4 linked regions of the Homo sapiens genome follow. The protein of the gene in region 4 purifies or fractionates together with the protein of the main gene of each other region. This does not show direct contact. Each region holds a gene or a part of one and is shown on either strand. Other genes may lie near its edges. The genes, in order: POLR3B, URI1, GPN3 and POLR3K.

Evidence for each region.
Region 1: the proteins of POLR3K (region 4) and POLR3B purify together in Homo sapiens (affinity purification with mass spectrometry; 6 studies listed by BioGRID and IntAct, with this or other methods). This does not show direct contact.
Region 2: the proteins of POLR3K (region 4) and URI1 purify together in Homo sapiens (affinity purification with mass spectrometry; 3 studies listed by BioGRID and IntAct, with this or other methods). This does not show direct contact.
Region 3: the proteins of POLR3K (region 4) and GPN3 purify together in Homo sapiens (affinity purification with mass spectrometry; 4 studies listed by BioGRID and IntAct, with this or other methods). This does not show direct contact.

Annotation. Positions count from the first base shown.
Region 1 is NC_000012.12:106,506,039-106,511,510, forward strand, and holds the end of POLR3B (DNA-directed RNA polymerase III subunit RPC2), read left to right. Parts: intron 1-1,589; exon of another isoform or gene 1,590-1,772; intron 1,773-3,381; coding exon 3,382-3,511; 3' UTR 3,512-4,160; downstream 4,161-5,472. UniProt on the Homo sapiens protein: Catalytic core component of RNA polymerase III (Pol III), a DNA-dependent RNA polymerase which synthesizes small non-coding RNAs using the four ribonucleoside triphosphates as substrates.
Region 2 is NC_000019.10:29,979,234-29,988,754, reverse strand, and holds part of URI1 (unconventional prefoldin RPB5 interactor 1), read right to left. Parts: intron 8,597-9,521; exon of another isoform or gene 8,505-8,596; intron 3,533-8,504; coding exon 3,454-3,532; intron 2,474-3,453; coding exon 2,338-2,473; intron 1-2,337. UniProt on the Homo sapiens protein: Involved in gene transcription regulation. Acts as a transcriptional repressor in concert with the corepressor UXT to regulate androgen receptor (AR) transcription.
Region 3 is NC_000012.12:110,464,291-110,473,693, forward strand, and holds the start of GPN3 (GPN-loop GTPase 3), read right to left. Parts: upstream 3,914-9,403; coding exon 3,866-3,913; coding exon of another isoform or gene 3,836-3,865; intron 925-3,835; coding exon 816-924; intron 1-815. Other genes in the region: protein FAM216A, read left to right, coding at 4,586-4,728, 8,788-8,828. UniProt on the Homo sapiens protein: Small GTPase required for proper localization of RNA polymerase II (RNAPII). May act at an RNAP assembly step prior to nuclear import.
Region 4 is NC_000016.10:45,172-52,394, forward strand, and holds the end of POLR3K (DNA-directed RNA polymerase III subunit RPC10), read right to left. Parts: intron 6,475-7,223; coding exon 6,387-6,474; intron 2,387-6,386; coding exon 2,259-2,386; 3' UTR 1,236-2,258; downstream 1-1,235. UniProt on the Homo sapiens protein: Core component of RNA polymerase III (Pol III) which synthesizes small non-coding RNAs using the four ribonucleoside triphosphates as substrates. Can mediate Pol I proofreading of the nascent RNA transcript.

The sequences.
Region 1 (5,472 bases), on a different chromosome or scaffold from region 4:
CATCTTTCATAAGGTTGCAGAGGTGACATGATTCCAAGGATAAGCCTAGCTCTTTCTTATATGAATGAGATGGGGGTTTGCTTCAGTCCTGAGATGTCTATTTGTCTTTTGAAATGCATATTGAGCTTGCTTTTTATAGTCTGGGCTGTGCAACCAAAAAGAAAAAAAAGAAAAGAAATCATGTAATAGGAAGATGCCTGGATCCTAGTTCCACTATGCTTAAATCTTCAAATTTGACACAAGGATTTTTAAATAATTTACTTCGAAAGGATGGTACAGAAGAATCACGTCATTAAAAATAGAGGTCATGGAACTTCAAAAAGAGTTTCCTTTTCTCTTCCTCCCCCTTGCATTCTTCCTCCCTCTCCCCACCCCCGGAGAAAAAAGAAAACAGTCAACCCGATTCACTTATGTGCTTTGAAAACCTTCCCCTCTCCGCCACTGGTTACCCAGGGAAGGTAATGTAAGCAAGAAGACCTGTAAGCAGCGATTGATCCTTCAGCATTATTCTGCTAAATGTATATCTTCTTTCCTGCTTCATTTCTGTCTCATTTAGAGAGCATCTGATGGCAGTGTCTGATTTTGAAGCGTATGTATTCCGTGTGTATTGTATTTGAAATCCTTTGAAAGAGGACTAAATCAGGTTATACAGTTTGAGGGTCTTTACTGTAATTAAACAGACCTCAATATATACTGTATGTCTGATTTTGAGTGGCCTACTTATACCCTTGTTGCCAACAGAAAAAAATCCTAATCCATTCTAGTAGTCTAGCCGCTGCCTCGGGTGCTGCTTTCTGGCCGAGGAGCGTAATGATGCTGTCATTTTTCCCATCATTACCTGATCATGTGTGCTGGGTTGAGTGGGAGGGAGCATGGGCGTCGTTGGAGGAAGTCGCTCTTTAATGAGCCACACAATGAAGGCTAGGTAATTAGAGCAGTTCGGAACCTTGAAACTGGCCTTTTGTCAGGGATTTGCACATTAGTGAGGCATTGCTATGGGGATGTTTACAGCACGACTGTTGTTCTACAGAAGACACTAAGGGCATAAGTCACAAAAGAGAGGTCCAAAAGGAAGACTTCAGGAAGAAGAAAATCCCTATTAAGGTAATTAGCTCATAGAGGATGTTTCACTGGACAGTCATTTCTCGTGTGAAGCCACAGCCTCCCCTTTTTGCTACCTTTGCCCTAAAAAAGCCGTTCATTTTATTGTTGTTCACGTCAAGTTTCTACCTTTGCAAATTGTTCAGATACAAGGTAAGGTAAGGTTTTATACACACACATGCACGTTGGAACATTTTAAATGATGGAGAAGTATTTAATAATAGAGAAGATTAAAGGGCTTTCTGGAATATGAATCAGTACATATGGAAATTTAAAATAGATTAGCTTGGATCGGAGTCATTGGGTAATGTACTAGTCAGGAGAAGAAGCGAAAGGTACCCCCGTTAAATGCATTTCCCCAATTTAATGAAAGCATGAACATGATTCCTAGATAAATTACATCAACCCAAGCACATTAAAAACGTAATTTTTGAACTCGAATGCATTAAATAGGTCTTTAGATAATCTTTTAAGAAAAAGTAACTCACCAAGTTTGTATTTGTACTGTTAACGGATCAAATACAGGTTAAGCACCCTGCGTCCCCTCATCATAACATCAACTGTGCATTTGTGAGGGTTAGTCTTCTCCCATTCTCCTCCTCAGGAAACTCTGTCTGCATAGTTACCACCACCACGTGCACATTCTCAGCCTCAGTTCTTGCTTTTCTTTTCTAAAATAATACAAGCTTTATTTTACTGATTGCAAAAATGATCCCTGCTCATTGTAAAACATTCAAAAGTTACCACAAATATAAAGTGAGTCACATTAATTCCCACCACCCAGAGATGACCACTATTAACATTTTGGTGACTCTTTCAAGATTCTGATAAGGGCAGAAAAATACAAATATACACACAAAAAACTTAAAATTTTACGTATGATTTTGGGGGCTCCATACACTTACAAAACTTGTTTGAGGGCCCCCTTGGGACCATGCTGATCAACAAACTGCTTTTTTCACCTCACAGTTTGTCCTATACACCTTCCATTTCAATAAATGTGTGTCCACAACAGCAGGTCTAATGGCTTCACAGTCTTCTTCTATCTAAATGTCCCAGTGGACATTTGCATATTCTCACCTTATGCTGTTATAAATAGTGTGGCTGTCAGCATTCTTGTGCACATACCTTTGCCACTTTTGGGATTACAAAATCAAAGAATATGCACATTTACAGTTTTTACACACACTGTCTTACTGCCCTCCAGAATGGCCAATCCTTTGTTCACTAAGGAATCCCCCTTCAATTCCTGGTCAGCACCCGATCTTCCAAGCCTCAGTTGCTATTCTTCTTGGACTCATTTTCCTCCTCGTTAACTGTGAGGACCTAGTTTTCTACCTGTTAAGAGTCAGGATTTGTACTGGATACCTACTGTCCTAGCTGCTGCAGACCCTTGAGGTGTAGGGTAAGGTTGTATTTTGGTCTGAAACCTGAAAGAATAATTCACTTTCTCCCCAGGGACCCTTCTACAGTTGTAGCCATTGATTAAGAACTAAGTTCAGTTTACCAGCTCTTCCGGAAAGAAGAGAAATTAAAGTCCTAATTGGAATATGAGGCAAAGTGGTTAGGAACATGGACTGTTGTTGCTAGGGTTAAGTGGGAACATATGTGCACATGCACACATACACACATTTCTTAGTTTTGCACAAGGGACAACATGTTGTAAGTATAGTACCTCCAACACTCATAGAAATCACCAAGCCTGAAGAGCACTAGACAAGTTACCATTTGATTGAATACCACTGTCCTATTCAAAAGTCTTGTCTTTTCCATCAGACTTTACGTATCTCAGTGACAGAAATCAAGTTATAATTGTTGAGCGCCTTGCCTAGAATAATATACTGCTAGTATAGTTGATGCTTATCAAATACATGGAGATTGATTGAATTGGTTTAAAACTCTTTAAACAATGAAAAAAATTTAAATCTGAGTAAATTTCCCAATGGTTCAGATTTCTGGAGCTCTTTCAAAACAGTATATTGGCAAATGTTTTACATTTTAAGGAGAAAGGGCTGGATGTGTGGTAACAACTGACTCAACTTGCATGCTTTAAACACTGGAGGGAATGGTGTTTGTTTCCTCTTTTCTTTTGCTTCCTTGGATGTTTCTTTTTTTCTGGGCACATACGTACTTATATGATAGTGCAACTGAACACTTAGGAATAGAAAGATAATTTGATAGAATGATAATAGAACTTTATAGAGACCATTCTCACTTCCTACGTGGAGGCCTTTGTTTCCGAGTTGCTGTCTGTCTAACGCTTGCTGACTTGCGTTTCAGGTGCCATTACTGCAAGTCATCCTGCCACGTGTCTTCCCTCCGTATTCCGTATGCCTGCAAGCTGCTCTTCCAGGAACTACAGTCTATGAACATCATCCCCAGGTTAAAACTGTCCAAGTACAATGAATGAGGATGGAAAAAATGATTATTAAAGAGAACAAGTGATACATCCAATGCAACGGAAAGCAGAAGGGATTTAGGACTACGTCTCCTCCTGTGAAGAATTCCCTTGCGTATTCTCTCTCTAAAACAACCAAAAAAAAATGGAGAGGCTTTTTATATACTCTAAGACTGGCTAAACAACCTTGATCATTGAGCCTCGAGCCATGGGAGAGATGCTGACCATGTGGACTGCAAGGCTGCTTGATTCACAGATGGATGTGACCTAAAGGATAAATAAGCTATTACTTATGTGCTGATCTCTTGACATTCACTCATTAGAAGACCTTACTCCTTCAAGCAAATGTTTGGGGTCAAATTTACCATATCTTCTGGCTAACCATATTCAAGATTCTTCTGAAACTTGGAGGATGTAAAGAATCCATTTGATTTGGTCAGCCTGGCTTTTGTCGTGGTGGCTGGCTCGGATAAATTTTCCCAACAATTAAATCTTGCCTTTACACACCCAAACTTTGTAATTTTAGTCTTGGTGAAATATAATGAATTTGTTCCTACCTTGTCAAGCAAGAATGTCGTCTTCTCCTATGGACTCAATTGCTATTATTTTAAACCTGCATGATTGTACCATGCAATACTATTCGTTAAATATCTGAATCTAACCCCGTGGCTGCTTTGTCATGCTCTGTCCCTTCCATGCCTGCCAGGATGCTAGCTGTCCATTTCATTTTTAATCTGACAGACTTCCTTACTCATTTCTAATTTGTTCTCAACTGCTGCCCCAAAGCCAGATAAACATTTGTGTTAAGGATTGTTTGTAAAATCAGAGTCAGAAACACTTTGAGTAATGGCCTAAGCCTTCATTCCCAGCATGTCACACTGAAGATGTTCAACAGAATATTAATAGGTATTATATACCAACAAGAATCAAGCTCCTATGTCAAACTAAGGTTGAGAAACGGGGTAACCAAGTTAAACATTCCACAGGACTTTTTCAAAGCCCTTAAAGATCCCAAGCTAATGTGTACTGGGTTTCAAAAGAGGGATGTTCCAGGGACCGAGGCTAGTCATTGACTTGAGAACTCAACCTCACTTCTTCTTTTTCTTCACAATAAAAAATTTCTAACACACGTGGGTATAACAGTCATAGCGGTATCAGTGAAAGCAGAATGAAAGACACTGCAGGTGAGCAGGCCTTCCTCAGCCCTCATGGCAGGGACTCAATAGGTATTCTTTTTTCTTTTTTTTTTCTTTTGAGACAGGGTCTCTCACTCTGTCACCAAGGCTGGAGTGCAGTGGCAAGATCACGGCTCACCGCAGCCTCAATCTCCCGGGCTCAGGCTATCCTCCCACCTCAGCCTCCTGAGTTGTTGGGACTACAGGCGCATGCCACCACACCCAGCTAATTTTTGTATTTTTGGTAGAGATGGAGTTTCGATGTTGCCCAGGCTGGTCTTGAACTCCTGAGCTCAAGTGATCCGCCCGCCTCGGCCTCCCAAAGTGCGGGGATCTCAAGTGTAAGCCACTGCGCCTGGCCTCAATATGTATTTCAACAGGTATTTCAAAAAGGAGTTTGAATGTTCAGATCTTTGCTATGCCAATTCCTTTTTTTAACCTAGCTTATAGTTCTCAAAACTGATGGTACATAAGGATTGCCGTACTGGATTAAATGTACAATCATACTGTACTTTGTGGGCTTTTTAAGGAGTTTTCTAGGGTGATCCTGATTATCTCACATCGTGTAGCAAATCCACTTCCCAAATCCATTTGCCCTGCAGTGTGGGACACACCATTTCAGTGAACACTCAGAGGGTCAGGCTGGAAGAGTTAAAGGCAGTGTGCTGGGTGCTGGCAGGAGGACTTCATCGTTCATCATTCAGTACCTGCCACGTACAAGGCACTGGACTAAGGATAAAAGAACAGGACAGGGCCTCTGCCTGACCGAGGACATAGTCCAGTGGAGGAGGCCAAGAT
Region 2 (9,521 bases), on a different chromosome or scaffold from region 4:
GTACACAAAGGCTTACAGCAGCTCTGTTCCTAACCGCCAAAAAATGGAAGCACCCAAATGTCCCTCAAAAGGTGAATGGAAAAACTGCTGTACGTGCATTTAATAGATATGCATGTAACGGAACACTCCTCAGCAATAAAAGAAATGAACTTTGAATACACAGAACCACCTGGATGAGGCGTTACAGCAAGTGAAGAAGCTAATCTCAAAAGACACAGACGTGAAGTCGTCAATCCTTCAGCAGTAGGCAGCCGTAGGGTGTGACCACCAAGGGGCAGTGTGAGGGAGGTTTTGATAGGAGCTGAGTCCTGAGAGCAGTATCTTGTATCCTATTCCGTGTCCTGACTGTGGTGCTGGCTAAACAAATCATGACCCGTGTTGTAACTCAGACCTTCCCCAATTACCCCAATCAACCATGACATAGATGACTATGTGTTTAACTGGTTATATTTCCTCTGCCTTAAGAAAAATAAAGTACCTTTTCTTAATAAATGTGAAGTACAACAATATACCTAAGTATTTTCTTCAGGTATAAATTATAAAACCATGTGAATAAAAGAGCTTTACGTAATTTTTTTTTTTTTTTTGAGACAAAATTTCGCTTTGTTGCCCAGGCTGGAGTGCAGTGGCACAATCTCAGCTCACTGCAACCTCCACCTCCTGGGTTCAAGTGATTCTCCTGTCTCAGCCTCCCAAGTAGCTGGGACTACAGGCACACACCACCACGCCCGGCTAATTTTTGTATTTTTAGTAGAGACGAGGTTTTACCACGTTGGTCGGGCTGGTCTCGGACTCCTGACCTCAGGTGATCCACCTGCCTTGTCCTCCCAAAGTGCTGGGATTACAGGCATGAGCCCCTGCGCCCGGCCCAGAATTTATTGTAACAGGAAATATGTACTTTGAAAATTATTTTAGATAAATATTGATCCCAAAAGTCATCTATGTTTGGTCACTTTCCAAAACCATATTTAACTACTAGAAAGTGATTTACAAAAACATGTTTCTCTACTCTAGAGCTCTATTCTATTGTAGTATAAGTATTCCCATTAATATTTTAAGTTATAACTAATTATAAAGATTTTTTTCACTGAAATATGAAAATCAATGTGAACAAACTTCAACAGGCTATGGATTCATTTCATAACATCAGAGCTACTTCAGTATATAAAGAGAGGCTTCGTCTTCAGTAAGGTCTTTAAGAAAAAAGTATGCCCATTCTCTTTCGCTAATATACATGACAAAAATAATGCAGCAAAGCCAAAAGATTTATCATTGCCAGAAATTACATACAGGCCTAACAATAAGATTCTGATTAGTGTCACAAAAGATCAAAATATATATCAATTATAAACTTATAGGAGTTGATTTGCAATTAGAGTCTCCAAATATAGTTCCCAGAATTTCACTGAGTAAATGAGTTCTCTAGTACTCATTCATGTATAAGTGAAATCAAGTTCAGCTTTAGAAAACTCAGCTGTTTTCTGTTTAGTATGACCTTATTTATAAAAAAGGATCTTCCCATCATTTATTTTCAAATACACATTTAACTAAAAGGTTAAAAAGCAGGTAGGGCGGATATTATACTCTCAATCTAAATACGTATTACAGAAATAACAACAGATTATAAACTGAACCTAATTTTAAAATATAACTAAGCTAGAACCCAAGCTAGCTCATCCAACTGCAAAATGTGTAGTGTGTGTTGTGTGTGTGTATGTAGGCTTCTATACACCTACAGATAATAGCACGGATAAACAAAACTCAAGAGCTGCCCTAATAAAGGGATGCAGAGAACTCAAACAACTGAAAAAGGATAAGGGTGCTGTTTTAGGTAGCACCTTTTCACACCTGGTCTCCTCTATCAAATGAAAATATGGTTTTTTTTCCAAACCAAAAAGCATTTTTAAGAATTGTCTACTTATGTAAACAGGTATTTCTCTTAGTTCACTAAGGAGAAAACACATTATTTCTGTGTACTAAAGTATTAAGTGCAAAAATAAGTCTATAATAGCAACTAAAAAAAAATTATAAGGTATAAAATGACTCCAATTTTTATGTCTTCCCAACTTCTAACTACAAAATCACATAATGACTTTGAAACTTTGTAACTTCTGAAAACATGCCAATGTAGGTGACATTTCCAACCCGGATGCTCCATTCTCCAGCTCATTCTCAAATGTTGGTTCTACTCAAACTACCTACAATTCAACAGAATCACAAACAGCCTGGATTCATAGATCACGGAAGGTACTTTTGGTAAGAAACAGCCCTTCAGCTTGGCAATCTGTGAATGGATACATATACAACAAAGAAACATCATTTAAAATGGGTACCTACGTTCTTTCCGGTGCTCAACTAAACCTACAGCCTGCTTTGCTGAGCACTTTGCAAACCAGTTGTCCCCCAGTAAAACAGTGACTTCATTAGTATGGACAAGTTTTCCTGGCATGAAGGCAAAAGGGCCAAATGGTACCTATTGTTTAAAAAAAAAGAAAAAAGGGAAAAAACATAAAACACTGAAAAGTACATTTTATAAAACACTTCGCATTAAAAGCCTTACATAACTGAATTTTTTTATTTATACATTGGGAAAAATAAAATGCCAGCTTCACAGAAATTCAACACTATATTAAAATTTTACTAGGAAAATCTAAAGAAAATTGCTTTATGTTCATAAATCAATGTTAAAACAGGAAAATAAATCCACACCATATTTACATATAGCTCTTAAAGAAAGTAGTACTGTCTCGGCATGTTTATACTTTTCATTCACTTGCAAATCTAAGTGAAAGCAACTAGTAGTGAAACATTGTCAATGCAAAATACTTTTGATAAAGAAAACTAAAAATTATTTTCAATAAAGTAGACACTTTTGCAAAGCAGGAATTAGTAAACAAATAGCTTTAATGGATCTATCTAGCTATATATACAAAATACTTGGACTAGTATAAAAGAACAAAGTCTTCATAAGAAAGAACATTCATGCAATGAAAGGCTCTAATCCAGGGCTCATGAACAGATCACTATGTCGATGTGAAGATCATTAAAACAAAAATTAGCAGCACGTTTTTATATAAAAATCAATGTCCTAAGGTTTAATTCTGTGAATTACAAAACATTATGGCCTATTCCTGCTCTGGCTAACAAGAAACGACTTAGTACCATATTTCTGTCATAATTACATTTTTTATATAGTAAGTTTCCATTTGAAATATGTCCAATTTTGTGCTAATATTTATGTCATTTGTGTCACCATATATATTCTGAAAAAAAAAGGTAAATACCAACAATTACTACAATTACTGTGTTCTTATAAAGTAAAACAAAACAAATCTTCCTTGCTACATAGTTACCTTGGACACAGTCCATCAGCCTGACATTCTGTGAACCGACACATAGTTAATATGTTTACAAGAAACAACTATTACTTTAAAAGAAACACACCAAACATACCATTATATTATAAGACAATTTATCAGGCAAGGTGCTGAGTCTTTCTCGAAGGGCATTATAGTCATTATCTACCTTCTTCCTGTTGACAGAAAACACCAAATACACACATTATTAACGATTTTTCTTTTTTTTTTTTTTTTTTTTTTTTTTTTTTTTTTTTTTTTTTTTTTTTTTTTTTTTTTGAGACAGAGTGTCGCTCCGTCGCCCAGGCTAAAGTGCAGTGGCGTGATCTCGGCTCACTGCACCCTCCACCTCCCGGGTTCAAGCAATTCTCCTGCCTCAGCCTCCTGAGTAGCTGGGATTACAAGTGTGCGCCACCATGCAAGGCTAGTTTTTGTATTTTCAGTAGAGAGGAGGTTTCACCATGTTGGTCAGGCTGGTCTTGAACTCCTGACCTCATGATCCTCCCACTTCAGCCTCCTGAAGTGCTAGAGTTACAGGCGTGAGCCACTGCACCTGGCCTCACTCAAAAGCTTTATTAAATCTCTTCTTTCAGTCGTGTGTGGTGGCTCACGCCTGTAATCCCAGCAATTTGGGAGGCCCAGTAGGCCAGGTATCATAAAACAAGCTAATCAAAAACATAATTTTAGCAAATTCAAGATTAATGTGGTTTTATTTTTAGTTTTAAAATCCTGTTTTTATACAGTTTAGCAATGGCATTATTCTACCATACATTTATTGAAGAATTAAGACTCTTCAGGGACTCTGGCATTTAGAAGCAGAATACTCAAATTTTGAGAATTACTGTTTTTTAAGATACAAGACTATCTGGACCAAATAAAATGTGAAAATTAAGGGAGACAGTAAAAGAGGGCCTGATATTTGGAGAGAAGAAGGGACTCAAGATGAAAAAAGAAGAGATTTATTTATTTTAAGACAGAGTCTCTCTCTGTTGCCCAGGCTGGAGTGCAGTGGCACAATCTCAGCTCACTGCAACCTCCACCTCCTGGGTTCAAGTGATTCCCCTGCCTTAGCCTCCTGAGTAGCTGAGACTACAGACGCATGACACCACGCCCAGCTAATTTTTGTATCTTCCATAGAGATTAGGTTTCTTCGCCACGTTGGCCAGGCTGGTCTCGAACTCCTGGCTTCAAGCGATCCCCCCACCGCAGCCTCCCAAAGTGCTGGGATTACAGGCATGAGCCACCACACCCGGCCGAAAGAAGAGATTTAATAAAGCTTTTGAGTGAATAGATACTGGCTGTGAAGTTGAAATCATGAACATGAAATTTGATCAGATGCTTTAGTCCTCATCAGAAAACCTTAGGCTGAAAAATGCATCATCAGCTCTTCAATTATTCATAATAATGTGATTAAGGTAAGAGAGAATCAACTGGGGGTAGAAGAAATTAAGTAGAGATAATACAAAAGGCGTTTCAATTTGGCCTAGGAGTCTGTTTCTTGTTACATCAAACAGAGCTACCAAATAAGTAATTTCAAACAACCAAAAGGTATATGTAACTCTGTAGGGGCAGAGATGATCGTATTTCCATGCTATGGGCCTTACTCAGCTCTTAACACCTGCTGGAAATGAACAGCCCTTCTTTTTGAGTAATACCAGGCAGCAGCCTATGCCAAGATGCCCGTCAAACTTTCTCTGGAGACTGGGTTTCCAAAGGGTTCCCTGCTAAGATACAGGCTGCAAGCAAAACTACAGCACTGAATTTTTTTTAAGCAGAAGGATGTTGTCAGTTTTTAAAAATAACAGAAACAAAAATTCACCAACTCAGCAAGTAATTTAAAAGAACATGTAGACATTGTCAAATTGAAATCAGGATAAACTGCAATGTAGGTAACAACTCTCCAGATAATATAAATGACAAACATCACAGAATTGGTTTCAGCTTACTGCTTAGTTCCCTGAAGCAACAGTAGCATAATTAATAAAAAAAAATTAGCTCAGTCTTAAGATCTTAAGGAATTTCACATATATATTATTTTACATAACCTATAATAAATGTCACTTATCAGTATTTTTCTCTTACAGAAGACAAAGTAGAAGGAAGATGGAAAAACCACATAGCAAGAAGCCAGATCTCCTCTATCAAGATGAGGTAAGCAATGAGTTTAACCTAGCTAGGTCTTCTGACCTGCATTCCTTCATGAAAGCTTTCTCATTTTCTAGTGTGCAACTGCTTTATAACTTTCCCCAAAAAAAATCCTTTTCTATAAATAAATACGAAACATGTTTTATTCTTTTGTTTAAGGCAAAAATCCTCCTCCTGGAAAATTTTTATATGGATAAAATGGCAAAAAAACTTCATGCACAAGGCTATGTACCAGAAAGAACATGGCTTTGAAGTCAGACCAGAGAGTGAATCCCAAGCTCTACATGCAATTTACACAAATTCACCTTAGTCTTAGTAACTTCAATGGCAAAATTGGACTAATACTTATCTCACAGGTTCAACAGAATTAAATATAAAAGGTCTAACACACTGCCCAGCATGGAGCAACTACTATTTTGGTTCCAAAACTCAAAACTCATTTTTTTCATGAAGCATCAAAAAACATCAATTCCAAAACTTTCAAGAAAGACTATTACCTACAAGATTTCACTAACCAATTTGATACAAATAGTATAACTTGCTGAAAGACAGTACAGCTGAATGTAACCATTCAGGGGCTTTGGAAACAGGACTGGTGTGAGCAATCAATGGGAGAATGTCTCCATAGGACTGACTGGTACAGTGCCTAGACAGTCAACACTCACTATTAATAACATAACACTAACAGCTTATTTATGTTTCAGATAAGTAATTCTGCAAATGCTCAAGGACTAAATACACCAGCCTAGATATCTAAATATTTCTATGAATATTAAGAAGCTAGTATTAAAGTCACCATTCAATAAGTCTTATTTTGGTAACAATGCTTAGGAGAAAAAAAAACAACTTCCTCACAAAAAACATCTATTTTGTACATTAAAAGAACAGTACGTTCAAAAACAGGCAATACCAGAGATCAATGTCAATATTTCAAGTCAAATATAATCAGTTTTCAACTTATTAATAATTCTCTCTGGAATAAAAATGCGGACATACTGGAGAGCAGTTTAAGATTAGAGTTGCTATTTATAAATTTTGAATTATTTTCTAAAAATACAAAAGTAGAAGATCACTTAAAATGCAGCCCATGTAGAAATCCTTTATGAAGGGAGGCCAGGAGGAGTCAAGCAATGTCTCTGGAAGAAACTACAGCTTGAGGAACCCTCTCTCTCTAAAGGCTACATTCGTGGAAATGTTCAGGGCTTAGTCAAACAGTGATCTCCAAATAGTATCTCTATTATTTCAGGCTTAAATAATCCTGTTAAAGATCACAAAGCCTATGCAACAGAAAATGCAAAAGTTATGCTAAGAACTAATGCATTACTGAGGTTAAGTCTGGGGTCTTTATTTATAACAAAATTTGAACAGATTTTTTTTTCTATTTTAATAATTAGAAACGTAATTAATTTTTGGACACAGGAGTCATTACAGTAATCAAAAATGGTAATTGCTTAAAATAATTTTTCTTCAAATGGAAAACAAAACCCAGATAGAGTTAAGAAACACCTCTCCAGCCTACTTACTTAGAATAGCTAGACCTGCTTCTTTGGCTTCAACATAATGGATCCTTATAGATCAGGTTCCGCCTTCAACTCTTAATTTTAAATTTTTTTCCAATATCCTCATGCAACATTCCTTATACAAAACAAGAACTAAAAGCATAGGTATAAGGCATGTAAGAAACTTTAACCACTTCCTTCTGAATCTTGCTAATCATGTGCAATATGCCTTTTGAGAGTACCTTTTGTTTTAAGGAAATTAAAAAAAAAAAATAGGCAGCAGCGATGAAGACCATTAACACAACCACAAGTTAGCCCTTACCCTTAAAGGATTAAGATCAAGACAGAACCTATGGGAAACAGCTCATTTGCATAAAATTGTAGAAAGTAAGAGAGAAATCAAGTTAAATGAGGGATATGCTCAAGTATTTAGGGGTGAAATACACAGATGTCCACAACTTAATTTGAAATTCATCAGAAAAAAATGGATTAACGGATTAGGGTACAGACAGATAGGTGATCAAGATTCACTCTTCCATATGTTTGAAATTTGTCATAATAGAATATTTTTAAAGGGACGAGGAAATATGAAAGGGATCAACATTTTTAATCCTCTTAAAAGTGACTGACAAAAATAAAAATCTCTATTAAAAAAAAAAAGTCTACATCCTTTGAGGCCAGTGATAAAGACTCCAACCTTTAAATAATAAAAAAGGGAGATAAAATTTAAATCAGGTTGAAACAATAAGACTTTGCTAATTTTACTTTAAAGTAAGAAGTTAAAATAGACAGCAAATACTAACATTGAACTTTTTTTTTTTTTTTTTTTTTTGGAGATGGAGTCTCACTCTTTCACCCAGCCTGGAGTGCCGTGGCGTGATCTCGGCTCACTGCAACCTCCACCTCCCAGGTTCAAGCGATTCTCCTGCCTCAGCCTCCTGAGTAGCTGAGATTATAGGCACGCGCCACCGCACCCGGCTAATTTTTGTATTTTTAGTAGAGACGGGGTTTCACCATGTTGGTCAGGCTGGTCTCGAACCCTGACCTTGTGATCTACCCGCTTCGGCCTCCCAGAGTGCTGGGATTACAGGTGTGAGCCACCATGCCTGGCCCAGTTTTTTTTTTTTTTTTTTTTTTTTTTTAAGAAAAAAAATCTTCTATCACTCTCTTTTCCTCTACCTAACATCCTAAACAGACAAGCAGAAAATACTGTGAGATGCCTAACGGGGAAAGAGGAAAAAAATTTCTATATAAGTGTTAACATCTGAGTTAACCTGGGACAGAGTTAAATTTTTATTTTTTAATTTAAGAAACGATAAAAACGGAAGATTCTGGAATATATACAATATATAACCTTCTTTAGAAATAATTTTTAGTCCATCATACCCACCCTACAACTTCCCATTAAGCATCCAAAAAAGACTTGTTTCAATTGAATCCACCATTTACTGAGCAGCTCCTCTACAACAAGCCTATGGCATATGCTGCAGGGATCATCACTCACACATAGCATGCCTTTCTGATTGTTTGTTGATTGTTTTGCAATGCATCTTTGTCAAAGATCCACTAGCTTGAAGGATGCCTGGCTTTTCACCTCTAAAATCAAGAAAATAGAGGAATATTAAGTTTGGGCATGGATTCTATATAGATAAAGAGATGTCCTCCAGTTACTAAAGCAAGAAATAATGATTTTTTTCAAAGTATCCTTTTAAACAATCTAAACAAATTGATAAAAGTTACATTTTATTTAAAAATTCTTGAAAAAGGGATCTATACTGTTATGCTTTATGCAATTTGGTGGGAAAAGGAACACTCCTCATGGAAAATTTAAATGTACTTGAATTAAATCAATAGCATTACACTTTTTTTCTAAATGGTCATGGCAAAATATTCAGTAATTTCAATTGATATAAGTAACTGAAATGTACCACAAAATTCAGGCAGAATGGTGGTATATTCCTTTTTTATAACTCTATTATACCAAGGAATTTATGTCATCAGAAGATGCTGATGAAATAATCTATGTTCTTTATATTTTATGAGTCCATCAGAAAACTTTACTATTAGACATAGATACCAAGATTAACCCGCATATAAAAACATAATTTTTCAAGTCAATGAAACAAAATTATCTAAAGAGAGATGCAGCTAACATTCTACTAGATTTCTTCAATTTAACTTTTCAACAATGAGAAAACAGTGCAATGGATATATATATATAGTAAGCCTGGACAGAAAAATCTGTTCTACTGTTCTCTCTACAACAACCATACACATGTGTTTGAAGACTTGTCAGTTATCACAGGTGCCTGTTTCTTCACTCATTACTAATCTTTTGCTCTAAGAAAATGAGATGTGAATTCAAAGCAAAAAACCTTTAAAATTATGTAAAAACACATTCATCTACGTTTGAAAGAAATATCCTAAAGTGCCTAGTTAATTTTTACTGATGAGTTTATATGTAATTTTTGTTCTTTTTATTTTCCAAATTTTCTATAACTAATATAAATTCCTATTACAA
Region 3 (9,403 bases), on a different chromosome or scaffold from region 4:
TCTCATGAGCCTGTCTGCAGTCATCACATTCTGTAACATGTTCATCATGTTGTTTATTGCCTATTTCCTAAAGGGTTGGTGTGGGCAGGGATAATGTCTGTATTATTCTCTGCTATAACTCCGGTGTCTGGCGTAAAACAGGTGTTCAACAGACACTTGAATGAACAAATTGAAAGAATTAAAAAAAACAAACCCAGGCTCCTGACTTATAGTGATCAGCAATATACCACATGATTCACTACAGCAGGACTAAGGACAAAAGGGACAGAATGAAAGGGTGCTGAGGGAAGTGTCCATTTACTTTTTTTTTTTTTTTTTTTGAGATGGAGTCTCGCTCTGTTGCCCAGGCTGGAGTGCAGTGGCGCAATCTCGGCTCACTGCAACCTCTGTCTCCTGGGTTCAAGCGATTCTCCTTTCTCAGCCTCCTGAGTAGCTGGGATTACAGTCACATGCCACCACACCCAGCTGATTTTTTTGTGTTTTTAGTAGAGACAGGGTTTCACCATGTTGGTCAGGCTGGTCTCAAATTCCTGACCTCGTGATCCACCCGCCTCGGCCTCCCAAAGTGCTGGAATTACAGGCATGAGCCTCCGCGCCCGGCCCCATTTACTTTTAAATCTTACATCAAAGACCAAGAAAGGATACTGTCACACATATCACCATGAACAGATGTGACCAAATGACAAGCTCATGCTATTTACCATAACACCAGGGATCCAGACTATAATAAGTATCAGTGCTAAGCAGCTAGTACTCACTGCCTCCCCAGCCCTTACTGTTCCTGAAGGTGGGGGGAGCCTTTGCTCAGGACTTACCAGCCATCACGGAGTAGTTGAAGTGTTCTGCTGCTGGATCCAGGTTTACAACTTGGACAGACCGGTTGAGGGCTTCACAGTGCTGGACCATGGTGGCACAGTAGGTGCTCTGTAATGTCACAAGGCATGAGAGGTTAAAGCAACAGGTAGTGTAGTGCTACCTTCCATACTCTGGAATACTATCCACTAAGGTCAAAACTATGCCTTCATCAACCAAGAGGCTGACTGACAACAAGGGAAAAAGATACCTGACTGGGCTGCAGATTCAAACCTGACTTAGACTCATGGGTACCTCTGGGGAATTTACTTCTCCACTCTGCCCTTCAATTTTCGTGTCTCTAACTGGGATGTCCTCCATAATCACTAAGGCTCCTTACTGTTCTAAATGTGACAAGCGGTATTTAAAGGGAAGAGTTCTGGTTACATAGTGTAACACCTAACACAGTGTCTCTACCAGGACTTGTACAGTGCAAACAAAGCTTTAGGTAGGATGGTCAGGGATGATGTCTCTGAGTAGGGGAGATATGAGTATATGAGAAGGAGTTTGCCAACCTAAGGGGAAGAGCATTCCAAGATGAAAGAACGCCAAGATCAATAAATAGTCTGGAGGTGGCTATCAGTTTGTAACTTTTGGTTTAGATAATTCTTTATCCATTATGTAGTTGTTACCGTACTATGTTAACATCTCGGGCTGGGTGCAGTGGCTCACACCTGTAATCCCAGTACTTTGGGAGGCTGAGGTCGACGGATCACCTGAGGTCAGGAGTTGGAGACCAGCCTGGCCGACATGGTGAAACCTCGTCTCTACTAAAAATACAAAAATTAGCTGGGCGTGGTGGCGTATGCCTGTAATCTCAGATACTCAGGAGGCTGAGGCAGGAGAATCGCTTGAACCCGGGAGGCAGAGGTCGCAGTGAGCTGAGATCACACCACTGCACTCTAGCCTGGATGACAGAACAAGACTCCTGGCTCAAAAAAAAAAAAAAGTCTCTAGGCTACTTGTCTGTGTCATACTCTGTTTAAAGGCAGAGATGTGTCTTATTCAGTTTCCCAAGCACAGGGACTAGCGCAATACCTAGTACATAATAAATACTTGATAATTGTTTCTAATTGACTTATTATGTTTAAAGATAAGCTCCACAAGGGCACGGATTTTGTGTGTGCATGTTTTTTTCCCCATACAACCCCCAGGGCCCAAAACAGTGCCTGGGATAAAGAACGTACTCAAGGAATGTTTCTGATAGTAAGCATCAAAAGCTTATAAAGATACTTGTTTAATACAATCAGCCCAAAAATTAAAATAGACTATAGAAAAAACATCCATCATGCTGTCCTCTCAGTGCCTTTACACATACTGTTGTCTCTGTCTGGAATGCCCTCTCCATACATCACACACTGTATCTTTTTTTTTTTTGCAAAGGGTCTCACTGTCACCCAGGCTGGAGTGCAGTGGCACCATCATAGCTCACTGCAGCTTTGACCCAGGCTCAAGCGATTCTCCAGCCTTAGCCCCCCGAGTAGGTGGGACTATAGGCTCTCGCCACCATGCCCAGCTAATTTTTGTATTTTTGGTAGAGACAGGGCTTCACCATGGTGCCCAGGCTGACCCTGAACTCCTGGGCTCAAGTGATCTGCTGGCCTCAGCCTCCCAAAGTGCGAGGATTACAGGCTTAAGCCACCACACCTGGCCACATCACACTGTATCTTAATTGACAGGTCATCTATTTGTCTTCCCCAAAAGACTACAGACTCTGGGTAAGTTAAAGGCCATAGGTATCTTAGTTACATGTACATGTTTTTACCCAGAATAAGTCAACAGCTTAGAACAATGTGTTTGTTAAAGACTGAGGCCACACAACACCTCCACAGACTCTAGTGTTTCCACACTTCTTCTTTTTTTTTTTTGCGACAGTACCTCTGTCACCCAGGCTGGAGTGCAGTGGCACGATCACCACTCACCACAGCCTCAACCTCCTGGGTTCAGGTAATCCTCCCACTTCAGCTTCCCGAGAAGCTGGGACTAGAGGTACCTGCCACCAGGCCTGGCTAATTTTTGCATTTTTTTGTAGAGACAGAGTTTCGCCGTGTTGCCAAGGCTGGTCCCAAACTCCTGGGCTCAGGCGATCCGTCCACCTCCATCTCCCAAAGTGATAGGATTACAGACGTGAGCCACCACGCCTGGCTATGTTTCCCACACATATGTTATTTGATCCATATCTTCACCATTCTCACTGTATTTGAATGTTCCTAACATTCCCTTAATATTTGTTTACAAGAAAAAATTTTATCCCTACTGTAAACTGAAAACCACTTATATTTGACATAACGTGAAATTAGACATAAAATTATATAAAATCTTTAAATGTTCTATTTTTAGCTAAATACAGGTGCCTATTAAAAGCTCTGAGACTAAGAACTGCTCTCTGAAAAGACCTGGGGATTAAAGAAGTGCTGAAGATACACACTAGCACCGAGCACAACTTCTCCTAAATGCGAAGTTGAGAACTGAAAGAGAAATGAAAAGGGAACAATTTCCCTAACACATTATCTGATGCTCCTTAATGTGGGGTCCATGTACCACCTACCACCTAAAAGCACCTTAAATACCAAAAGTCCATGTCCCAAGTTCTGAGAAACAGTAATTAATGAGACCCCACTTTACCCTCCTGGGAGCGAGACAGGGCCGGATTCTGGAGTTGAGACAAAACTGGATTTATATTTTTTTGCGGGGCAAAGAACTTAATTAACCTTTCTGTATCTCGTTTTCTGTAAAATGAGAAAAATGAGATCTCTCTCACAGGGTTGTTGTAGAAATAAGCGAGGCGTTTCATCTGCTGCCTGGGGCTTAAGTATACAATAAATATTAACAACTACCATTATTTCCCTTTCAAAACAACAACAAAAAAGAACGTGAAGCCAGACAGCAGAAATGAGTTGCGTGGGGTCTCAGGGTTCCCAGTACACACACCCGCCGGCTCACTCCCTCAGGACCCAATCTCCCGCCTTCCACGAACTCCTACTTTTCTCTCCTTGTCCCCGCAGATCCTCACCTTCCCGCTGCCCGCGGGGCCCATGACCAGCTGCGCATACCGAGGCATGTTGGCTCCCGGAGCCGCCCGCCACACTCCCTTAGCCTTCGCGCGACGCCCACTGAGCTCCGGGAAAGTGAAGTGCGAACCAATCGCAATCCACATTCTTTCTACGCCTCCAGTTCTACCACACCTCCTACTACGGGGCAGCCCGCGGGCCAAATCCCGTGAGAAACGCGTCCTGAGAAAAAAGGGGAGGGGCGAGGGAGAGGATTTGCGCGTGCGCAAAAGTAGTTGATGGAAATCGGCCGTTGGGATGCTGTCTAAGCTTGGATACCTGAGTAATAACGGACAACAGATAAAGCTCCGCATCCTTGCGCCACGTGCTTCGGTCCGTGGTTTGCGTGCAGACGTTTGACCTGTATGGTGACCCTCGCGATTTGCAAATGTGCTGAGGATCTGGAATACTGAAGTGGAAGGCACCTCTTGTTTTGGGGAGCATGTATATTTCCCTCCTGTGACGCACTGCTTCCACAGAGAGGTGCAAACGTGCAAACGCTCAGCGACCGCAGCGCTCCTGCCCCTCCCCCACCGTAACTCCGGGGTCGCGGATCTGCCCGCCCCGCTCTCCCGAAGCTGTTCGGGCAGTGTCCGAACGGCTTCGGAGGGGCGAGAAGCCAGCATCCGAGCCGCCTCTCCGGAATACCAGCAGCCTGACGCACGCGTGCTGTCGGGGGAGGGATGCTGGGACAGCTGCTCCCGCACACGGCTCGCGGTCTCGGCGCCGCGGAGATGCCCGGCCAGGGTCCGGGGTCCGACTGGACGGAGCGTAGCTCTTCTGCAGAGCCGCCCGCTGTGGCCGGGACCGAGGGTGGCGGCGGCGGGTGAGGTTGGGGGCCCCGGGGTAAGGGTGGCAGCATGGGGCCCCCGGGTCGTGAGGCCCCCGGGTCGTGAGCCCCGTGGAGGAGGGCTGCGGCCGACCTCTCGTCTCGGGGGCTGGCCCCGGTGCCCTCAAGTGAGAGGCGGGGAGCAGTTTTGTTGTGGACAGAGGGCAGAGGGGAGGACTGCCTCGCGGTTGAGGGAGGGTCTCTGAGGGAAGCTTCGGAGGAGCGTTTGGTGCAGTGGCCACGAGGTGACTGCGACAGTCGCCCGCGTGCATCTCTCTGCCCCGAGGGGGCGCTGCGAGCCCTGCTGGGACGTTTGCTGTCTGGCACAGGACTGTGTGTCCACCGAAAGGCGAGGCGGGAGGGACAGAGGAGGAAGATGTCCCCCGGTTCAACTGGGGGCATCCAGGCCCATAAACCAGTTCCTTCCCTCTAGTGACATGAGCCACCTTCCTGTCAAACGGGGATTTCTTTTTCTTTTTTTTTCTTTTCTTTCTTGTTTTTTGAGAGCGAGACAGTCTCGCTCTGTTGCCTAGGCTGGAATGCGGTGGTGCGATCTCAGCTCACTGCAACCTCAGCCTCCCAGGTTCAAGTGATTCTCCTGCCTCAGCCTCCCGAGTAGCTGGGATTACAGGCGCCTGCCACCACGCCCGGCTAATTTTTGTATTTTTAGTAGAGAGGTGGTTTCACCATGTTGGCTAGGCTTGTGTCGAACCCCTGACCTCAAGTGAGCCGCCCGCCTCGGCCTCCCAAATTGCTGGGATTACGGGGTGAACCATTGCGCCCGACCTCAAACGAGGATTTCTAATCGCCAATGAGACCAATGACTGAATATCCGAGGTGCCTTGATCTTGACATTTTCTTCACACTGAAGTTCCTTTTTTCACAAATCTATTTCGTTTTGAGCAGGTTTTTACACCTATTTCCTAGATAGTGAAGACAGCGAGCTGTTGAAGTCACTGCTGGAGACTCTACCTCCTCTTCCTCTCCCTACTTTATTCCCTAAAAGCAAGAACTGCGATATGTTTGCCGTTCAGTACAACCCGCAGTCAGGGCCCCTGTTGCACCCATGGCCATCCTTTTTGTTTTTTTTTTTTTGAGACAGAGTCTCGTTCTGTTGCCCAGGCTGGAGTGCAGTGGTGCCATCTCAGCTCACTGCAAGCTCCGCCTCCCGGGTTCACGCCATTCTCCTCCCTCAGCCTCTGGAGTAGCTGGGATTACAAGCGCCTGCCACCACGCCCGGCTACTTTTTTGTATTTTTAGTAGAGACGGGGCTTCACCGTGTTAGCCAGGATGGTCTCGATCTCCTGACCTCGTGATCCGCCCGCATGGCCGTCCTTTTTGTCTCTGGTGCTACTGAAGACTTCTTAAAGATGGGATGGAGTCTTGGGTTTCTTTTCTGTTCTTCACAGTCCTTGGCCGACTGCAGGATCCTGGTGTATCAGGAGATACGTGAATTTTTTTTTTTTTTTTTATTGAGACAGAGTCTCCCTCTGTCACCCAGGCTGGAGTGCAGTGTCACGATCTCAGCTAACTGCAACCTCCGCCTCCTGTGTTCAAGCAATTCTCCTGCCTCAGCCTCCCAAGTAGCTGGGACTACAGGTGTGCGCCACCACGTACCTGGCTAATTTTTGTATTTTTAGTAGAGATGGGCATGAGCCTGTAATCCTGGAAGGTTCTATTATGATCCCCACTTTATGGATGACAAAACAGGCACAAAGAGGTTGTTTGTCCTTTCCTTTTATCTCCGCCTGTCGTTCATCTCCATGCTTCCTTTAGTTTATCCAAACTCTTAAAACTACAATTAAAAAAAAAGACAGTATGCCCTTCAGTTTGGTTTAAGGAACCCCATTAAAAAACACAAACCAAGACTAATTTATGAAAAGCTTATATTCCCAGAAATACAAAATAAAATTTTCAAACTAGAATCAGGTTTATTATGCTACATGATACAATGTTGGCACTGGCAGGGGTCTTAAAAATCATCAATTCCGGTCATATTTACTAATCTGAAAGGGGAAGTGATCTGCCAAAAATCCCATTATTAACTAATGGGAACTCCGGAACTCCTTACTTTTTTTCTTCTTTTTTTTTGAGATGGAGTCTCGCTCTGTCACCCAGGCTGGAGTGCAGTGGTGTGATCTTGGCTCACTGCAACCTCCGCCTCCCAGGTTCAAGCGATTCTCCTGCCTCCTGAGTAGCTGGGACTACAGGCACGTGCCACTACGCCTGGCTAAGTTTTTGCATTTTTAGTAGAGAACGGGGTTTCACCATGTTAGCCAGGATGGTCTCGATTTCCTGACCTCGTGATCCACCCGCCTCGGCCTCCCAGAGTGCTGGATTACAGGCGGGAGCTACCGTGCCCAGCACTTTTTTTCTTTAAAGTCAGGTTTATTGAGGCATAATTTACACAAATTAAAGTCTTACTTTTTCATGTATAATATGATGGGTTTTGACAAATGCACATGGCTATGTAAGCACTGCCACACTAAAGATACAGAGCAGCTCTATCACTCCTTCAAAACTCCCTCATACCTTATAAAGTCAACCTTTGAGAAAGGAAGACACAGGAGGGTTGCCAGCAGAGAAGTGATGTGATCTTACTTTACTTAAAAAGGATCACGCTGGTTGCTAGTTGGAGAATAAACTAGAAGGAGCAAGCGTAGAATTAAGAAGTTGGAATACAAGAAAACGATATGGTGGCTTGGAATAAAATAGCAAAGGAAGCGGCGGTGAAAAGTTCATAACAAAAACTTTATAAACTTGGCGCCTGGCCCATGAACTCTTGGTCATTGAATAAATTGCAGGATGAGGATCAGTTGTTTTGTCTTAAGTTTAGAAAAGAAAAAGAATTTGTACGAAATTAGAAACATTACAGACCAACTTATTAGTTCTAGCACACCTTAATTACTATTCAAAGAACAGTCTTTCGGCATGGCGTGGTGGCTCACACCTGTAATCCCAGCACTTTGGGAGGCTGAGGCGGGCGAATCAGTTGAGGTCAGGAGTTTGAGACCGGCCTGGCCAACATGGCGAAACCTTGTCTGTACTAAAGATGGAAAAATTAGCCGGGCGTGGTGGCGGGCACCTGTAATCCCAGCTACCGGGAGGCTGAAGTGGGAGAATTGCTTGGACCTGGAAGGCGGAGGTTGCAGTGAACGGAGATCACGCCATTGCACTCCAGCCTGGGCAACAGAGCAAGACTCTACCTCAAAAAAGAAAAAAGAAAAAAAAAAAAGAACAGTCTTTTCAATACCCAAATCACTTCATTAAAAATAAAGACAGCAAGATAATCACATGGATAGCCCAGGAGCCCCAACTACTTTATTGAGCTCACTGTAGGAATGAGATTAGGAAGCTATAAAATTAAGACCCAGGATAGGCATGGTGGCTCACATCTGTACAAAAATTAGCCAGGCGTTTTGGTGGTCCTGGCTACTTGGTGGCTGAGGATCGTTTGAGCCCAGGATTTTGAGGCTGCGGTGGGCTATGATCACGACACTGCACTCTAGCCTGGGTGAAGGAGGGAGACCCCATCTCTAAAAAAGGAAAGAAAAAAATCTTGGAGCCATTAGGATTTAACCAGAATTATAGGAAAAAATTTGTAAGACATTATTTCTGATGGAAACATGAAAAGTAAAAATAATATGCAACACTATCCTTTTTTAAAATTTGAAATATGTTGGTTGGGTGCAGTGGCTCACACCTTTAATCCCATCACTTTGGGAGGCTGAGGCAGGCAGATCATCTGAGGTCAGGAGTTTGAGACCAGCCTGGCCAATATGGTGAAACCGTCTGTACTAAAAATACAAAAATTAGCTGGGTGTAGCAGCGCTAGTCCCAGCTACCTGGGAGGCTGAGGTGGGAGAATCACTTGAAACTGGGAGGCAGAGGTTCCAATGACCTGAGATCATGCCACTGCACTCCAGCCTGGGTGACAAAGTGAGACCCTGTCTCAAAAAAAAAAAAAAAAAAAAAAAAAAAAATTGAAATATGTTGTTCAGTGCTTGTAACATTGTAATTATTACATATTATTTATATGCTTTATTTTTTCAACAGATCAGCTGGATACTCTTGTTACCAGAATTCCAAAGGTTCTGGTGAGTAGTGCATATAAAGCAGATAATACTTATAAGTAACATGGTTCTGAGAAGCCTATTTGTCTGTAACTACTTACACAATAGAGTTTTTTTCTTTTTTCTTTTTTTTTTGAGATGGAGTCTCACTCTGTTGCCTGGGCTGGAGTGCAGTAGTGCGATCTGGGCTCACTGCAACCTCTGCCTCCTGGGTTCAAGCGATTCTCCTGCCTCAGCCTCCTGAGTAGCTGGGACTACAGATGCGTGCCACCATGCCTGGCTAATTTTTCTATTTTTAGTAGAGACAGGGTTTCGCCATGTTGGCCAGGCTGGTCTGGAGCTCCTGACCTCAGGTGATCCACCTGCCTCCGCCTCCCAAAGTGCTGGGATTACAGGCATGAGCCACCACACCCAGCCCACAATAGAGTTAAAAATAGATTGTATTAGCATCCTTGGTGAACTTAGTCTTTAAGATTTCAAAGAGCAATCAGGGAGGTTTTTCTTGTCTGTTGGTACAGTATATTTTACATCAAGCATTTTTAAAATTAGCAGTGAATCCTAAAAGAACTGTATTTATAGCTGACGTTGGTTGAAAAGCA
Region 4 (7,223 bases):
ATTTTGCAGCTCTTAGATGCTGTATGAGCCCCAAAAGAGGTGGCCATGATGCCCTGCGAGAGGCACCGAAAAGCAAGAACACCAAAGGCTAAAAAAAATAGAAAGGCAAAAAGGCAAAGCAGGCTGCAGTGACAACTCCACCTTCTAAAGAGGAGGCCTCAGCTATGCCTCTCCTCCCGGAGATTCCCTCCCAGAGATCCCAAGCACCCCTGCAAATAAAAGGGCTTGGTTTGCCCAGAAAAATAAGAACTACATTGAAGGAGGACGGTAAAATTCTCCAATGGGAGGCCATACCTGAAATGGTGACCCCGATTTGTAGAACAGTTCCACCAAGGAACTCACATGGGAAAAAAAACAAACAGCACTAAAGACATTATTAAGGCATCATTTCTATGTGCCATGGCTCGCTGCTATTACTCAAGCCATTTGTAAACAAACAGTGTTTAACTTGTGTTCAGAACAATCCATAACAAGGGCCTGCTTGGCCCCCAGGAGTTCAGGAAACATGAGCCAGCCATGCCCTGTGAAAAGCTGCTTATGGACTTCGCCAAATTGCCCTGAAAGGGGGGCTATCAGTGCATGTGGGTGTTCATTTGCACCTTTTCAGGATAAGTCGAGGCCTTCTCCATCTGGACAGAGAAGGCACTAGAAGTGACTCAGGTGTTGTTAGGAGACGTTATTCCCAGATTTGGACTGCCTCTGAGATCAGACAATGGACCAACATTTGTGGCTGCAAGAGTTCAGGACTTAACTAGACTATTAAAAATAAAGTGGAAATTGCGTACATCCTACAGGCCACAGAGCTCAAGTACAGTGCACGAACCAGACACTCAAACAGCTGCTGAAAAAATTTTGTCAAGAAACTCATCTAAAATAAGATCGGGTCTCGCCCATGGTCCTCCTCCAAGTCAGGTACACCCCCACCAAACAAACTGGGTATTCGTCCCGTGAAATATTGTTCAGAAGGCTGCCCCCAATCATTAATCAAATTAGAGGGGATTTAAAAGAGTTAGGAGAGCTAACCCTTAGAAGACAGATGCACTCCTAAAGGAGTGACAATGCAAGAGATGCATGGCTAAGTATTAAAAAAAAAAAAAATGCCTATAAGTCTAACAGACCCAGTACACCCTTTCAAACCTAGGGTCTGTGTTTAGGTTAAAAAATAAAATCCAACCACTCTAGGACCCATATAGGATAGGCCCCATATTGTGATCAGGAACTGATCAACATGTTCAAACAATAAGAAAATAGTCATATTAAATGTAAAGATTGGTGGGACACAGTGGCTCACGCCTGTAATCCCAGCACTTTAGGAGGCCGAGGCAGACAGATTATCTGAGGTCAGGAGTTGGAGACCAGCCCGACCAACATGGAGAAACCCCATCTCTACTAAAAATGCAAAATTACCCAGGTGTGGTGGTGCATGCCTGTAGTCCCAGCTGCTTGGGAGGCTGAGACAGGAGAATCCCTTGAACCCGGAAGGCAGAGGTTGCAGTGAGCTGAATTCGTACCACTGCACTCCAGCCTGGGCGACAGAACAAGACTCTGTCTTAAATAAATAAATAAATAAATAAAATAAATAAATAAATAAATAGTATCTTATACATTTAAAGCAACCCGAGGAAGCAAATCAGGGGAGGTTCAAAAAAATGAATAAGGGAGTAAGAATAGGAATAAAGAAAGAAATTGAAATCCCGGTGATTAACATTTTCGTAGCCTGTTCAAATGTAAGTATGTAGTCTATTCTGGGATCACTGTGATTTGGGGTTTGCTTTCTACCTCTTAAGCTATTTAAAACACTGAGAAGGCAATATTCCAACTTTCATTTAAATGAAATATTCAGAATTTTGATTAAAATAAATAATAAATTACACAAGTTTACAAGTAACAGTTAAATATTTAGGGACATGTACTAAGTTTTACAAACAGTACAAATATTTAAGAGTGTTGATTGGGAGTAAGGGAATGTCAACTGCCAATAAAGTGGAAGATGAAAGAATAGGACTTTACACAGAGCATATTTAGTTATGGGTCTCTGTCTCCTCCCCACACAGAAAAACTCCCAGACATTCATGACTTCATCCACCCTGCCTGGCAGATAGGCCATATTTCCTGACCCCCTGGCTCTTCACCTCAAAAGGTTTATCTTTCCACCACACTAGCAAAGACCCTCAGGACACACAACTCATACTGCCAGCTAAGCATCTACCCCGAGGGACAAGGCAAGCACACACTAGGGCAGCTGGGCCATCCTGGCCCTAATCCCTCCAGCGGTGTCCACACTGAGCATTGCAGCACTTGTAGAAGGTGGTCATCGGCTCATCTGCAGAGCGGGTCTGAAGCTGCATGAAGTAAGCACGAGGATGTTCGCATTTGGGACACGACTCTGGCAATGAGAAAAAAGAAGTGACCACATTTAAAAAAAGATGCTACTCATGGCTGTCAAAAGTAGGTATTACTTAATATGTGGGAGGCCAAGGCGGGCGGATCACCTGAGGTCAGGAGTTCGAGACCATCCTGGCCAACATGGTGAAACCCCATCTCTACTAAAAATACAAAATTAGCCAGGCGTGGTGGCGGGCGCCTTTAATCCCAGCTACTTGGGAGGCTGAGGCAGGAGAATCGCTTGAACCCAGGAGGCAGAGATTGCAGTGAGCCAAGATCGTGCCACTGCACTCAAAAAAAAAAAAAAAAAAAAAAAGTAGGTATTACTATAATATCTTTTTTTTTTTTTTTTGAGATGGAATCTCGCAGTCACCCAGGCTGGAGTGCAGTGGGGCGATCTCAGCTCACTGCAACCTCTGCCTCCCGGGTTCATGTGATTCTCCTTGCCTCAGCCTCCCAAGTAGCTGGGATTACAGTTGCCCGCCACCACACCCGGCTAATTTTTTTGTATTTTTAGTAGAGACAGGTTTTCACTATGTTGGCCAGGCTGGTCTCGAACTCCTGACCTCATGATCCGCCCACCTCAACCTCCCAAAGTGCTGGGATTACAGGCATGAGCCACCGTGCCCAGACTACTTAATATCTTTAAAGATGGTAAAGAACCTCCCTGCTCATTTGATCCCCCTTGACAAGGGTAGATCTACAAACAGTGATGTCATTCCCACCACGCTGTAACACTAAGGGAATCTGGGAGACCTGTGACTCACACACTCTCCCCCTCCCCTCCCTGAGTCCCATGGTTCTTCTCAAATCCAGCTGAAGGCTGGTTGGAAACGTAACATGGAAGGTGACTGTTTTGGTCCATTTTGTGCTGCTGTAACAAAATGCCTAAGACTAAGTAATGGTTAGATGGTGGAAGAGTTTTGAAGTAAATGCTGGGAAAAGCCTGCATTGTCAAGAATTGAGCATTAAGGGCCGGGCGCGGTGGCTCACGCCTGTAATCCCAGGACTTTGGGAGGCCAAGGCAGGCGGATCACGAGGTCAGGAGATCGAGACCATCCTGGCTAACATGGTGAAACCCCGTCTCTACTAAAAACACAAAAAATTAGCCAGGCGTGGTGTCGGGTGCCTGCAGTCCCAGCTACTCGGGAGGCTGAGGCAAGAGAATTGCGTGAACCCGGGAGGCGGAGCTTGCAGTGAGCCGAGATCGCGCCACTGCACTCCAGCTTGGGCAACAGAGTGAGACTCCATCTCAAAAAAAAAAAAGAATTGAGCATTAAGGGCGATTCTGGTGTGGGCTGAAAAGAAGAGAAGAGGCCGGGTATGGTGGCTCTTGCCTGTAATCCCAGAACTTTGGGAGGCTGAGGCAGGTGGATCACGAGGTCGGGAGGTCAAGACCAGCCTAGCCAAGATGGTGAAACCCCGTCTCTACCAAAACTACAAAAATTAGCCGGGCGTGGTGGCAGGTGCCTGTAATCCCAGCTACTAGGGAGGCTGAGGCAGGAGAATCGCTTGAACCCGGGCAGCATAGGTTTGCAGTGAGCAGAGATCGTGCCACTACACTCCAGCCTGGGCAAAAGAGACTCCATCTCAAAAAAAAAGCCAGGCACAGTGGCTCAGGCCTGTAATCCCAGCACTTTGGGAGGCTGAGGCCAACAGATCACCTGAGGTCGGGAGTTCGTGACCAGCCTTATCAACATGGAGAAACCCCATCTCTACTAAAAATACAAAATTAGCTGGGCGTGGTGGCGCATGCCTGTAATCCCAGCTACTCATGAGGCCGAGGAAGGAGAATCACTTGAACCTGGGAAGTGGAGGTTGCAGTGAGCCGAGATCACACCATTGCACTCTTCAAAGCGATTTCACTTTGAGAAACTTATCCTACACCTGACAGAAATGGCTTCAAACACTCTATTTCTGACATTAGGTAAAAAGATTTTTTTTTTTTAGACAGTCTCACTCAGGCTGGAGTGGCATGGTCTCGGCTCACTGCAACCTCCGCCTCCTGGTTCAAGCAATTCTCCTGCCTCAGCCTCCTGAGTAGCTAGGACTACAGGCACGCGCCACTGAGCCTGGCTAATTTGTTTTTTTTTTTTTTTTGAGACGGAGTTTTGCTCCTGTTGCCTGGGCTAGAGTGCAATAGCACGATCTCAGCTCACTACAACCTCCGCCTCACAGGTTCAAGCGATTCTCCTGTCTCAGCCTCCCAAGTAGCTGGGATTACAGGCAGGCACCACCACGCTCAGCTACTTTTTGTATTTTTAGTGGAGACGGGGTTTCACCATGTTGGCCAGGATGGTCTCGATGTCTTGACCTCGTGATCCGCCCACATTGGCCTCCCAAAATGCTGGGATTATAGGTGTGAGCCACCGTGCCAGCTGCTAACTTTTTCACATAGCAGATTTGTATGTTCTTTTTTTTGACAGAGTTTCGTTCTTGTTGCCCAGGCTGGAGTGCAATGATGCAATCTTGGCTCACTGCAACCTCCACTTCCCGGGTTCAAGCGATTCTCCTGTCTCAGCCTCCCGAGTAGCTGGGATTACAGGTGCTGCCACCACGCCTGGCTAATTTTTTGTATTTTTAGCAGAAATGGGGTTTCACCGTGTTAGCCAGGCTGGTCTCGAACTCCTGACCTCAGGTGATCCGCCCGCCTCGGCCTCCCAAAGTGCTGAGATTGCAGGCGTGAGCCACCACACCCAGCCTATATGTTCTTTTATAGGGGGAAAACCACAGTACTAACCATCAGTTATCTCTCTCACCTCTCAATATAACTTACATTTACGTCTTCCCCTTTCCTCTCCTGGCCACATCTATGTCTACCAGACATGCAATAAACATGTATTTTACCCAATCTGCAGTTTAATGCTCACTGGTATTAACTTCTAAAAATCTATATTAGAAGCGTGTATTAGTCCGTTCTCACACTGCTATGAATACCTGAGACTGGGTAATTTATATAGACAAAAGGGGTTTTGTTTGTTTTGAGACAGAGTCTCACTCTTGTCACCGAGGCTAGAGTGCAGTAGTGTGATCTCGGCTCACTGCAACCTCTGCCTCCTGGGTTCAAGCAATTCTCGTACCTCAGCCTCCTGAGCAGTTGGGTCTACAGGCGAGCGCCACCACACCCGGCTAATTATTTTATCTTTAATAGAGACAGGGTTTCACCATGCGGGCCAGGCTGGTCTGGAACTCCTGACCTCAAGTGATCTGCCTACCTTGGCCTCCCAAACTGCTGGGATTTACAGGCGTGAGCCACGACACCCAGCCAAGAAAAGAGGTCTAATTTACTCACAGTTCTGCGTGGCTGGGGATGCCTCAGGAAACCTACAATCATGGCGAAAGGAACCTCTTCACAGAGCAGCAGGAGACAGAATGAGTGCGAGCAGGGGAAACGCAAACGCTTATAAAACGATCTGATCTTGTGAGAACTCACTCACTATCAGGAGAACAGCATGGGGGGAAACCGCTCCCATGATTCAATTACCTCCCACTGGGCCCCTCCCAGGACACCTGGGGATTACGGAAACTATAATTCAAGATGAGATTAGGGTGGAGACACAGCCAAACCATATCAAACAGAAAGAACATACTTTTTTCCTTAGACTCTTATTTTTATTAATCTACTCATCATTGCCATTATCAAAGCTATCACCTGTTGAGTGCCTCTTATATACCAAGCACGGTATAATTCACTTTATGCTCTCGCGGTCTACGAATATGGATTAGCCCCAGAGAAGTCAAGAGACCCAAGGAAGGTCCTACAACAATACAAGGTTGCCCTGAGAATCTGACCCGGGCCTGTATGACTCCAAGGCTGGCACAAATATTGCTTGTCTGACAGATTATTAAACAGTAACAAATACAAATAAATTATTCAAGAACCATTTTCTATTTTTAGAAACCTACATCATTTATATGACATCATAGACTCTGCCAAGCAGTGGCATCAACAGCCTCATAATTATCCACAGTTTAGCAACAGAAACAGTTTTCCCTCTTACCTGCAGTAGAGTCAACATTCTCCCAGGCAGCTGCTCCACCAAGCACATCATCCACTTCTTTCAGTTTTGGGTACTTCCGATTTGTTACCTAACAAAAACAACACTTCAGACTCCAAGTAACTGAATAGCGCAAACCTGGGCTGCCAAACCTTAAATTTCAGGATTACATAAGAGTTCACTCGGCTGGGCGTGGTGGCTGACACCTGTAATCCCAGCACTTTGGGAGGCCAAGACGGGCGGATCACGAGGTCAAGAGATCGAGACCATCCTGGCTAACACGGTGAAACCCTGTCTCTACTAAAAATACAAAAAATTAGCCCGGCGTGTTGGCGGGCGCCTGTAGTCCCAGCTACTCAGGAGGCTGAGGCAGGAGAATGGTGTGAACCTGGGAGGCGGAGCTTGCAGTGAGCCGAGATCACACCACTGCACTCCAGCCTGGGCTACGGAGCAAGACTCCATCTCAAAAAAAAAAAAAAACAAAGAGTTCACTCTTCCCGTAGTTTCAAACTCCAAACTCCCACAACACAGTACAAACTGGAGTAGCATGCAAACATTAAGACTGACGTAGCACCAACATATTCTAACTGCTAAAAAGTAAAGGTATTCTGGCCAGGCGTGGTGGCTCACGCCTATAATCCCAGCACTTTGGGAGGCCAAGGCAAGCGGATCACCTGAGGTTGGGAGTTCGAGACCAGCCTGGCCAGCGCGGTGAAACCCCGTCTTTACTAAAAATACAAAAATTAGCCGGGGATGGTGGCAGGCGCCTGTAATTCCAGCTACTCGGGAAGCCGAGGCAGAAGAATTGCTTGAACCCGGGAGGCAGAGGTTGCAGTGAGC